Linked DNA regions of Homo sapiens: all the other regions are linked to region 2. The links come from fine-mapping of genetic effects on gene expression. A gene starts in region 2. Each other region holds a variant in brackets. All regions are shown on one strand. Distances are from middle to middle.

Region 1 (4,000 bases), 44 kb before region 2:
TGCCTGTAGTCCCTGCTACTCTGGAGGATGAGGCAGAGCAAGAACCTGTCTCAAAAAAAAAAAAATTCTTTTGATTCAGAGAACATTTATATTCAGATGAGCCAGTTTTATTCTAGATTTAAAAACAAATTTATTTTTTCTTTGATCTGGTTCTACAGAATTTAATAAATACTACTTAAGTTCATAGTTCAGATAAAGAAACAGAGACCAAAACAAACTGTTAATTGACTTAGAATAGAATTGTGATACTAGAAATTCAACGTAAATCACCAGGAGTGTCAGCTTAGTAGTGTAAGAGATGGAAAAGGAATCAAGACAGTCCCTGTGCTTGCAGCAGACTGCACTTTTACAAAATAGCCACAGTGGCTAGGCACGGTGGCTCACGCCTATAATCCCAGCACTTTGAGAGGCTGAGGGGGGTGGATCACCTGAGGTCAGGAGTTTGAGACCAGCCTGGCCAACGTGGCAAAACCCCATCTCTACTAAAAATGCAAAAAAATTAGCCAGGCGTGGTGGCGGGCACCTGTAATCCCAGCTACATGGGAGGCTGAGGCAGGAGAATTGCTTGAACCCGGGAGGCGGAGGCTGCAGTGAGCCCAGATTGTGCCATTGCACTTCAGCCTGGGCAATAAGAGTGAAATTCCGTCTCAAAAAAAGAAGAAAAGAAAATGGCCACAGCAGGCCAGACATGGTGGCTCACACCTATAATCTCAGCACTTTGAGAGGCTGAGGCGGGCGGATCACTTGAGATTAAGAGTTCGAGACCAGCCCAGTCTGGCCAACATGGCAAAACCCCGTCTCTACTAAAAATAAAAAAAAAAATTACCTGGGTCTTGTGGCACATGCAGGTAATCCCAGCTACTCGGGAGGCTGAGGCAGTTGAATTGCTTGAATCCGGGAAGCAGACAGAGGTTGTGGTAAGCTGAGATTGCGCCACTGTACTCCAGCCTGGGTTACAGAGTGAGACTCCGTCTCAAAAAAAAAAAAAAAAAAAAAAGCCGGGCGCAGCAGCTCACACCTGTAATCCTAGCACTTTGGGAGGCTGAGAAGCGTGGATCATGAGGTCAGGAGTTCAAGACCAGCCTGGCCAAGACGCCGAAACCCTGTCTCTACTAAAAATACAAAAATTAGCCAGGTGTGGTGTCACATGCCTATAATCCCAGCTATTCAGGAGGCTGAGGCAGGAGAATCGCTTGAGCCTGGGAGGCAGAGGTTGCAGTGAGCCGAGATTGTGCCACTGCACTCCAGCCTGGGCAACCAGAGTGAGACCCTGTCTCAAAAAAAGAAAATAGCCACAGCAATATCTCTGGTGCCACATGTTCTTTCAGACCCTTGCCACCCTTGGATTAGAAGGTGGAATCAACTGCCCTCCCCTCAAAGCTGGGTGGGACTTTGTGACTCCTTGGACAATTAGAATGCAGCAGAAGTGATACTGCATTACTTCCACAGTTAAGGCATAAAATGCAGCATGACTTCCACCAGCACTCTGTCTTGTGGAACATTCAGGCTTTGAATCCAGCCAGCA[T/A]GCAAGGAGGAGGCCCAAAGAGCCCATGTGAAAAGACCATACAACAAGGCCCACATGGAGAAATGGAGCCCTCGGCTGTGCCTTGTCCAGTTCCTGATTGTGAACATCAAACTTGCTCATTTCATGCCACTAAGTTTCAGGGTAATTTGCTACATAGCCATCCACAACCAGTGTTCAAGTAATTTACAACCCAGTGGGATGCATAAATAAGGATACAACCCAGTGGGATGGATAAATAACAAATATAAGGCAGCTTAAGAATGGAGCAGTGAGGGAAGAAGGGAAAAGTCTTCACAGATAGGTATTAGAAGACAGATCAAACTTCGAAGGAAAACAATTAGAACAACAACAAAAAGGAAAGTCTGGTAGAACTTGGTGACTCAGTAGCATAACATATGGACCTTGCTGGAGACAGACTTTAAAAAAAAATAACCTCTAATAACTGAACAGTATTAAAGTATTTGCAGGATGCTATAGGAAACATTATTCTATAAAGAGACAAGGTGGAGCCTTAGAGACTGAGTTCAATCATATGAAATTACGACATTTCTTGCTGCTTAGCCTCTATGCAAAGGTTAAGGTCTAACCCTGACCCTAAGAAATGAAAGGCACTTATCAGTGCTTCCTTTGATGTACTGGCCAAGGCAGAAATCAGTACCTTGCTTGCTCACTGTTCTAGATCCAGTATCAGCTTAATTATAGCAATCCTCCATGGTTAGCATTCTTTAGAGTTCGAGGGGTGATTTATAAGGAGGCATTTGTCTTGAACCAAAATGAAAAGAGCCAGCGCCTAATAAGTTATAAAAAGCTGAGTACACTCATAAGCTGCTTTAATTGCTGAAACTTATCCCCAACTTCCCCGATAAGGGCATGAAGATTATGTCTAGAGACATCAGGCTGACAACCTGAGAAAAAATTATTACTTACTAAACCAAATGAAAGCATTTAGCTCTTTAAGCTGATCTGTACAAGCTGAAGCCTGAAAGGAGGAGCTCTGAGCTGCCTGCTCAGTAGCAGCTGTTTAGGAGACTCACCTTTGATTTGAGATCCCTCTCACCACATCAGACTTCCTGTAAAGTGTTCACATAGGTAATCCTTAAAATCCCAGAAACTTGGCCAGGCGCGGTGGCTCACAGCTGTAATCCCAACACTTTGGGAGGCCCAGGCAGGCAGATCACCTGAGGTCAGGAGTTCGAAACCAGCCTGGCCAACATGGTGAAACCACATCTCTACTAAAAATACAGAAATTAACTGGACGTGCTGGTGCACGCCTGTAATCCCAGCTACTTGGAAGGCTGAGGCAGGAGAACCGCTTGAACCCAGGAGGCAGAGGTTGCAGTGAACAGAGATCGCACCACTGCACTCCAACCTGGGCGACAAGAGTGAGACTCTGTCTCAAAAAAAAAAATAAAAAAACAAAAAACCCCAGAAGCCTGAGAATTTCTGTTCTCCTCACCTCATAAAACTTTTTTAAGGAGCCCACGAGGCATAGCTTCAGGCTGTCCACAATCTCCTGATGCGGCATCTGGAACACCACCCGGGAATACCATTTTGTGAGGGTGCTAGGGTCAGGGTGAGCAGAGAGACAGAGAAAGGAAGATGAACAAATGCTCGAAGGGGACAGCCTATGGCTTATGTCAGTAACACAGGTTTCTCTACCAATCAATCCAAAAACAAGTACCTAGAAAATGCATTTATATGTAAGAACAAGCAGTGACATGGAGAAAAGACATATTTAAGTCATATGCAGAACATAAAAACGTGTAATTGTGGCAGAGCGCGGTGGCTCATGCCTGTAATCTCAGCACTTTGGGAGGCCAAGGTGGACAGATCACGAGGTCAGGAGATCGAGACCATCCTGGCTAACACGGTGAAACCCCGTCTCTACTAAAAGTACAAAAAAAATTAGCCGGGCGTGGTGGCGGACACCTGTAGTCCCAGCTACTCGGGAGGCTGAGGCAGGAGAATGGCGTGAACCTGGGAGGCGGAGCTTGCAGTGAGCTGAGACTGTGCCATTGCATTCCAGCCTGGGCGACAGAGCGAGACTCTGTCTCAAAAAAAATAAATAAATAAATAAATAAAAAATTTAAAAAAAGTGTAATTGTGGATATTTCCTACAAAAACTGCTCCAATAGAAAAAATTTAACAACTTAAGATATCCACCAAGAGAGGATTGGTTAAATAATGATACACAGAATAAATTCTGAGCAGCAGTTGAGTTGGTGGAGATTTATTTGTAATGATACAGGAAAATGTACAGTTTAACTGCATATTAAGCTAAGGAATAGTATGCCTAGCAATATCCCATTTGTACAAATATATATATGTGTGTGTGTGTGTTTCAGAGATATATATCACATGTATGTGTTAATATAGGCATAGAAGAGAATCTGAAAGTATATATACATCAAACCTTTGGCAACTGTTAATATGAATAAAAGCTGGACCATGAGGAATTCTCACTTTCTCAATTTC
Region 2 (4,354 bases):
CACTCTGGGAGGCCCAGGTGGGAGGACCATTGAGGCCAGGAGTTTGAGGCCAGTCTTAGGAACACAACGAGACCCTGTCTCTACAAATAATTAAAAAATAGAAAAAAAAATTTTAAAAACTCTCTTCTTTCAAACTCCATCAGAAGTCTCCAGAGTACACAGTCTTTCTGCTTTGAGCCTACAATACTTGCTCAGTCTCACAGGTTGCATTTAACACCCTTCTCTCTCCCAGGTTACCCGGGGTGAGGCTCTCCCTGGCTTCCCTACCAAATCTAAAGCCCATCAGGTCTCTTCAAAATCACTTCATAACCTGTAGGTCGGGCATGGTGGCCCATGCCTGTAATCACAGCACTTTGGGAGGCCGAGGCGGGTGGATCACTTGAGATCAGGAGCTCAAGAGCAGCGTGGCAAACATGATGAAACCCTGTCTTTACTAAAAATACAAAAATTAGCCAGGCATGGTGGTGCATGCCTGTAATCCCCCCTCCTCAGGAGTCTGAGGCACAAGAATTGCTTGAACCCAGGAGGCGGAGGTTGCAGTGAGTCAAGATCGTGGCACTCCAGCCTGGGTGACAGCACAAGATTCTGTCTCAAAAAAAAAAATATATATATATATATCACTTTATAACCTACAGATTTCAAGACTCCCTCTTTAAGGGGCTCCTCTCATTGTCCTGACTTGCCCCTGATTCCTGAAAAATATTTCTTAACGGAAAAGAATTTTTTTTTTTTAAGAGACAGGGTCTTGTTCTGTCATCCAGGCTACAGTGAAGTGGTGGCATCTTAGCTCACTGCAGTCTCAACCTCCTGTGCTCAAGCAGTCCTCTTGTCTCAGCCTCCCAAGTAGCTAGGACTTCAGGCACCTGCCACCATACCCAGCTAATTTTTAAAAAAAATTTGTAGAGACGGGATCTTGCCATGTTGCCCAGGCTGGTCTCAAACTGCTGACCTCAAGTGATCCTCTCACCTCAGACTCCCCAAATGCTGGGAGAAGCCTCTTCTTAACTTTCAAAAAGCTGTCTTGGCCGGGGGTGGTGGCTCGCGCCTGTAATCCCAGCACTCTGGAAGGCCAAGGTGGGCAGATCACAAGGTCAGGGGTTCGAGACCAGCCTGACCAAAATGGTGAACCCTCATCTCTACTAAAAATACAAAAATTAGCTGGGCATGGTGGCCTGCGCCTGTAATCCCAGCTACTCGGGAGGCAGAGGCAGGAGAATCGCTTGAACCTGGGAGGCGGAGGTTGCAGTGAGCAGAGATCACGCCACTGCACTCCAGCCTGCGCTACGGAGCGAGACTCCGTCTCAAAACAAACAAACAAACAAACAAAAAAGCTGTCTTAAGTATTAGCTACAGAGAAATCATACATTTAAAGAAAATATTAACACACAATTCATAAACCCACAGCGTAAGTGCAGACAGTTCAGGAACTTGCAAAATTTATTGAACTAAACTATCCTCTTTCACACTCTAAACGCAGGATATGACTCCCTTTCTTGAAGGCTATATTTAACTGCTAACACCCCTTTTCGGTGAGCCAGGACTCTGCTCACACCTCCCCAACACCACCCAAAGAATCCCAAGCAATCAGTATGCTAACAGCTACATACTCAGAAGCGCTGGACGGCCTCCCTTAAGGGACATCTGGAATCTTCCTCTTTGTCCACGCTTCCCTCAACCTCCAGCACCACTTCTATAGATTCAGGTAGCTCCCCCAGAGGGCCCTCTCCCAGTGTGGGTTTCCCCCTGGGATCAGGTAGCAGATACTTGGCTGTCCGAAAGGTTCAATGGGGAGCGAACCCAGGACGGGCTGGGCCTGCCTCCCTCGCATCCCTGGGTGCGTGCTCCGCGCTGAGGCCTCGCGACTCGGGCCTAACCAGAAGCAAGGCCCCCGAAGGCGAGTCCCATCCCCTTTCCACCCCGAGAAAAGCACCTTTCCCCAAAGCCACAGCCCTGCCAGGGGTTCTATCTCCTCTCTCAGGCCAAATAAGACGTCCACTTGGGCCTCCGGAGGGCCTCCCCTGCCGCCCCAACCTGGACACCTTCTTGGGGCCGCGGCGCCGGGCCTCGAATAACGACTTCCCGCCCCCGCCCGACCCGCAACCCTCAGCAGCTCCCCGAAGTGGGAGGGGAGAGGCCCGGGAGGGCGGCTCACCCCACGTGCTTGAGCAAAAACCCAACCTGCCCGCCCCCGAGCGACCCTGGCCTGCCTGGCATGCCGCAACCGGGGCCAGTACTCACCTGTGCGCGAGTCCTCGCCCCAGTCGCCCAGCTCCGCGCGGCCTCAGGGGAAGACCGAGCTCAACCCACGCCCCGGGGCCCACATGCTCCAGGGCCAATTTCCGCTCTTCGAGGCCTCCGGGGATGAGCCCATTGGCCACAAGACCTGTCGTTCACAAGAGCAAGCTATCTAATTGGCCCATCTGCAAGAGAGGCTCGTCCTTTCCAGCAGGTTCCCTGTGCAGGGGCGGTTCGTGCGGAAGGAGCGCTGGGAGTTATGTGAACCTCAGCGTTAAAATGTGTTAGGGTTTGGAGATCCTGACTCCCTTTCTGGGGGCAACTCCTATAAACAGATTTAGCCTAAGACTCGCGTGTTGAAATTGACTTGCCCCATTCCTGCCAGTTAAGAGGATTAGCGATACAGGTGGTGAAAAAGAAACGGTAAGCTCGAGTGCGCATTCAAACACCTAATTCATATGATTTCTGCACATCACTTTCGTTATACATAAAACAGAGATAAAAACTAAAAACATCCATTCATAGGGTTGAATGGAAATGTACACACATAATGACATAACGTATGTAAAATACTTAGCACAAGGAGAAGACGACCCTCGATAAATGTTGCCTATTTTTATTGATGCCTAAATCTGTGAGCCAAGAAGAGCTTTCTAGGAAGCAGATTAAATTATCAGTGGTTACTTCAGCAACTACAGAATGATTTTACCCAAAGAAAGATTTCTGACCCTCTCCCAACCATTTTGTCAAATAACTGCATCCCTCTCCCACACCCAGGTTTTACAGTGTGGTTGAGGTAAAGCTTCTGAAGGCTTTGGCGGATGCTATAGAGACATCCAAGGGCTCTGCATGGAATAGGACTAGAGAAGGGTTAACCTTATTTTTTCCAGGCCTCAGATATCCCATGACTTATTTTAATCCACACATACAAGGGCCCTCCCTATCCTTCCCGAATGAGGATAGTCTGAAAATTATTGGAGCAGGATGATTTTCAACTCAGGAATCCAGTTGGCACGATGCCCCTTCACTGTTCCTAGATAGTATTTGTTTACCATGATCTAACATTTTCACTTCCTTTACCACACAACCTTCTTAACTTGCAGCTGTTGCAATGTTATGTTGTAAGCAATTCTCCTGCCTGTGCAAATACTTAATGGTAGCAAGTGCAGTCAAAAACAGTTATACAAACTGTTTTGTAACTTTCGTGAAGATCCAACTCCTTGTTCTTTTAGGAACTCCGACCAAACTTTGCATGACACACTTATTCTATACACATGAAACAATATTTTGGGGGCAGGATTCAGCAAATCTTCTAGTTGAAGTAAGGGAATAATAATCCTCAGATAATTTCCTGAGTATGTCTTCTATTTGGGAACCTAAACCAAGAGCACCATTACAAAGGGTATGCACATTGGGTTTCCTAGATTTCTATATCCTGTCCATCCATGCAAGTGTAGGTGGCCTTCGTACAGTATTTCTAGCTAATCCAGACATCATTAACACTACTTATTTAACCAAAGGAAAATCCATATAGTCCTGCTGTTGATTGGACATAAAAATGGTTGAAGCTTTCTGAAACGTGGACATCTATTTAGGACCTTTCAAAAGCTAATCAACCTCTTTTGGAGATTATATTCCCTAACAGAGTACTTTAATTGTTAATTAGCCATCCCTAGGATATTGATTAAAAAGGACACACATAATCTCATCACAAAAAGATGAGTATGTGAGGTGATGGATATGTTAATTTGGTTTAATCATTCCACAATGTAAATAAATATCAGAATATCATACTGTACCACATAACCATATGTAATTGCTATTTGTTAATTAAAAATGAAAGGGGCAAAAAGAGCACGTATATCACACTAAGAGATAGTATTTTGAGATAAATCACAGATTTTTTTTTTAACTCAAAAAAGTCGTAACACCAAATTCTGTCCACCTGGCCCTGCCAGTCTCTAAAATTCAGAGTGAAAATGGCCCCATAACTATACATAACCTGAATTTTCCTAGGCAGTCATGACTCCAAATACCCTGGGCACTTGGTCACCATAAATATTTCTATTCCAACCATGTATTCTGGTTTGTTGTTGTTGTTGTTGCTGCTGTTCAGAAA
Region 3 (4,000 bases), 70 kb before region 2:
GCGGGCACCTGTAGTCCCAGCTACTCGGGAGGCTGAGGCAGGAGAATGGCGTGAGCCCGGGAAGGGGAGCTTGCACAGTGAGCCGAGAGCACACCACTGCAGTCCAGCCTGGGTGACAGAGTGAGACTCTGTCTCAAAAAAAAAAAAAAAAATTATGTTAATGTGCTGAATTTGCTACTTTTTTTTTTTTTTTTTTGAGACAACGTCTTGCTCTGTTGCCCAGGCTGGAGTAAAATGGTGTGATGATGGCTCATGCAGTCTGAACTTCCTGAACTCAAGCAATCCTCTTACCTCAGCCTCCTGAGTAGCTGAGACTACAGGCATATACTACCATACCCAGCTAACTTAAAAATTTTTTTATACATATGAGGTCTATGTTGTCCAGGCTGGTCTTGAACTCCTGGGCTCAAGTGCTCCTCCTACCTCGTCCTCCCAGTGTTGGGATTACAGCCACGAGCGGCTATGCCCAACTAAAAATTTTCCTTAGAGATGGATCTTGCTATGTTGCCCAAGCTGGTCTCAAACACCTGAACTCAGAAGATCCTGCCACCTCAGCCTCCTGAGTAGCTGCGCCTACAGGCATGCACCACTATGCCTGGCTTATTGTTATTTCTAAGTAAATTAATAAACATTGAAATTTTTACCTTCTAATATGCTAATTATTGACAGATATGTATCCATATAAATAAAAACTCTTTGGGGCCTTCAATAATATTTAAGAATATAAAGGGGCCCTAATATCAAAAATTTTGAGAACTCCTGAACTAGAGCTACAAATCTAAATACAGATATTAAATAAATCACATGTGAGCTTAAGACTGTCTGGGAGGCTTCAGGTGGTGAACCATGAATTCTGAGAAGCCCTACAACTCAGGACAACTGGAAAAGCTGGGCAAAATATGAAAACATGTAGTTTGCGAAGGCCTTAGATGCATCCCAGCATCAGAGGAGGAAGGATGGGGCCCAGGGGAATCAGCCAAGCATGCGAAGGCATTCTTCCCTGGCAGGGCTGCTGATTCCACCACGGGAACTAAAAAGCTGTGAGGTGGAGGAGTGCTTTTTATTTTGAACAGCTTTATTGAAATATAGTTCGAAATACCATAAAACTCATCCTTTTATTTACTTTACTATTATTATTTTTAGAGACAAGGTCTCACTGCGTTGCCCAGGCCTGAGTGCAGTGGTGTGATCAAAGCTCACTGCAGCCTTGAACTCCTGGCCTCAAGCAATACTCCCACTTTGGCCTCCCAAAGCTCTGGGATTACAGATGTGAGCCAGCACGCCTGGCCAAACTCACCCACTTAAACTATACAATTAAATGGTTTTTTATTACTTTCAGAATTTTGAAACCATCACCACTATCTAATTTTAGAACATATTGATCACCCCAAAAGATTTTAATCCCATACCCATTGGCAGTCAGTCCCCCAGTGCCTCCTTCCTTTGACTCCTAGAACCTACTAATGCGCTTTGTCTCCATGGGTTGGACTATACTAGACAAATAAAATCATAAACTTTTTTATGTTTAAATAAATTTCACTAAACATAACGTTTTCACAGTTCATCCATGTTGCAGTACGTCTCAGTCCTTCGTTCCTTATTGCAGAATAGTATTCCATTATATGCATATGTCACATTTTGTTTGTCCATTCATCAATTTGTGGACATTTGTGGGTTTTTAAAATTATTTCATT[A/T]TATTTTTGAGACAGAGTCTTGCTCTGTCACCCAGGCTGGAGTGCAGTGGTGCAATCTCAGCTCACTGCCACCTCTGCCTCCTGGGTTCAAGCAATTCTCCTGCCTCAGCCTCCCTAGTAGCTGGGATTACAGGTGCACACCACCATGCCCAGCTAATTGTTTTTGTATTTTTACTAGAGATGCGGTTTCGCCATGTTGCCCAGGCTGGTCTCAAATCCCTGGCCTCAAGTGATCCGCCCGCCTCAGCCTCCCAAAGTGCTGGGATTATAGGTGTGAGCCACTGCGCCTGGCCCATTTGTATTATTTCAATTTCTGGCCATTATGAATAATGTTGCTACGAACATTTGTGTATAAGTTTTTGTGTGGACTTGTGTTTTCAATTTTCTTGGGTACACAATGTTTTCAATTTTCTTGGGTACATACCTAGGACTAGAATTCTTGGGTCATGTGGTAAATCTGTTTAACTTTGATTTTTATTTTATTTTACATATGGAGTCTATGTTGCCCTGGCTGGAGTATTGTGGCTATTCACAGGTGTGATCCTCACACACTATAGCCTTAAACTCCCGGGTTCAAGTGACTCTTCCACCTTATCTTTAAGAGTAGCTGGGACCACAGGCTTGCACCTCTAAGCCCGGCATGCTTAACTTTTTAAGGAACTGCCCAACTGTTTTCCAAAGTAGCTGCATTATTTTATTTTACAATCCCATTAGCAATCTATGAAGTTTCCAATTTCTCCATGTCCTGGACAAGACTTTTATTACTTGTCTTTTAAATTTTATTTTAATCTTTTCTTTAAAAGGGTCTTACTCTGTCACCAAGGCTGGAGTGCAGCGGCACAATCACGGCTCACTGCAGCCTTGACCTCCCAGGCTCAAGTCATCTTCCCACTTCAGCCTCTTGAGTAGCTGGGACCACAGATGTGTACCATCATGACCAGATAATTTATTTTCATTTTTTATTTTTGTAGAGATAGGGGTCTCCCTATGTGGCCCAGGCAGTCTCAAACTCCTGGGCTCAAGCAATCCTCCCACCTTGACCTCACAAAGAGCTGGGATTACAGGCATGAGCCATCATACCTGGCCTCTTTTAAATTTTAGATATCCTCGTGCATACGATATGGTACCTCATTGTGTGTCTGTATGTTTTTAAATTAAGAGACTATTTTTTAGAGGAATCTTCAAGTTTACAAAAAAACCTGAGGCAATAGAACAGAGTTCCCATATGCCCTCCTCCCACCTCCTATCCCCACCCATAAACAGTTTCCCCTTTTGTTATCATATTGCATTATGGTACACTTGTTACAACTGATGACCAAATGTTGATACATTAACTATACTCCACAGTTTACATATTTGTGTTGTACAGTTCTATGGGTTTTGACAAATGCATAATGTTATCTAGTTTCAGTGCCCTAAAAATCCTGTGTGCCACCTATTCCTTTCTCCCCCTTCCAAACCCTTGACAGCCACTTTTTACTGTCACCACATTTATGCATTCTCTAGAATGCCATTTATCATACAGTTAGAATCATATAAAGCCTTTTCAGATTACCATCTTTCACTGAGCAATATGTATTTAAGATTCCTCCATGTCTTTTCATGGCTTAATGGCTTATTTCTTTTAACACAATATTCCATTGTCTGGATGCATGACAGTTTATCCACTCACCTACTGAAGGACATCTCTGTTTCCAAGTTCTGGCAGTAATGAATAAAGTTGCTACAAACATTCACGTGCAAGTTTTTGTGTGGGCGTAAGTTTTCAACTTATTTGGGAAAATATCAAGGAGCGTGATTGTTGGTATGTGTATGTAAGTGCACATTTAGTTTAGTAATTAGCTGCCAAACTGTTTTGCAAAGTGGTTGTACCATTTCCATTCTCACCAGCCGTGAGTGAGCGTTCCTATGGCTCTACACCCTCACCAGCATTTGGCATTACCAGTTTTTGAATTCTGATCATTTATAGGTGTGTAGTGGTATCTGATTGTTTTAATTTGCAGTTCCCTAAGGGCAAGTGATATTGAACACCTGCTTGTATGCTAATTTGCCATCTATCTATCTACCTATTTTTGAGACGGAGTCTCGCTCTGTCACCCAGGCTGAAGTGCAGTGGTACAATCTCAGCTCACTGCAACCTCTGCCTCCTTGGTTCAAGCAGTTCTCCTGCCTCAGCCTCCTGAGTAGCTAGGATTACAGGCATGCGCCACCATGCCCAGCTAATTTTTTTTTTTTTGAGATGGAGTTTCGCTCTTGCTGCCCAGGCTGGAGTGCAATGGCACAATCTCGGCTCACTGCAGCCTCTG

Direction of the effects. Positions count from the first base shown, and alleles are read on the strand shown. Sizes are in standard deviations (SD) of each study's normalised expression.
In carriers of allele T in region 1, the expression in substantia nigra of the gene that starts at base 2,321 in region 2 tends to be higher than with A alone (large effect, 1.0 SD a copy in Braineac2).
With allele T in place of A in region 3, the expression in breast of the gene that starts at base 2,321 in region 2 is lower (moderate effect, 0.69 SD a copy in GTEx).

Evidence for each region. PIP is the estimated chance that this variant, and not a neighbour inherited with it, causes the effect. A credible set is the group of variants that fine-mapping cannot tell apart.
Region 1: its variant is the best candidate, but not a certain one, in a credible set for the expression of PIWIL2 in substantia nigra (Braineac2, PIP 0.68).
Region 3: its variant is the best candidate, but not a certain one, in a credible set for the expression of PIWIL2 in breast (GTEx, PIP 0.62).

The regions. Positions count from the first base shown.
Region 1 is chr8:22,317,257-22,321,256 of GRCh38, reverse strand. It overlaps PIWIL2 (piwi like RNA-mediated gene silencing 2), which reads right to left. Exons shown (of 23, transcript NM_018068.5): 20 at 2,982-3,087. Among named protein-coding and RNA genes, the nearest start is that of PIWIL2, 44 kb to the right of the region's middle. RefSeq lists a cis regulatory region at 2,600 and an enhancer at 2,516-2,685. The variant T/A (reference allele first, on the strand shown) is at 1,526.
Region 2 is chr8:22,273,283-22,277,636 of GRCh38, reverse strand. PIWIL2 (piwi like RNA-mediated gene silencing 2) reads right to left here and starts at 2,321. Exons shown (of 23, transcript NM_018068.5): 1 at 2,239-2,321. It overlaps PIWIL2-DT (PIWIL2 divergent transcript), which reads left to right and starts at 2,475. Exons shown (of 2, transcript NR_134293.1): 1 at 2,475-2,658. RefSeq lists an enhancer at 1,396-2,041.
Region 3 is chr8:22,343,366-22,347,365 of GRCh38, reverse strand. The region is part of intron 20 of PIWIL2 (piwi like RNA-mediated gene silencing 2); the gene reads right to left. Among named protein-coding and RNA genes, the nearest start is that of SLC39A14, 22 kb to the left of the region's middle. The variant A/T (reference allele first, on the strand shown) is at 1,695.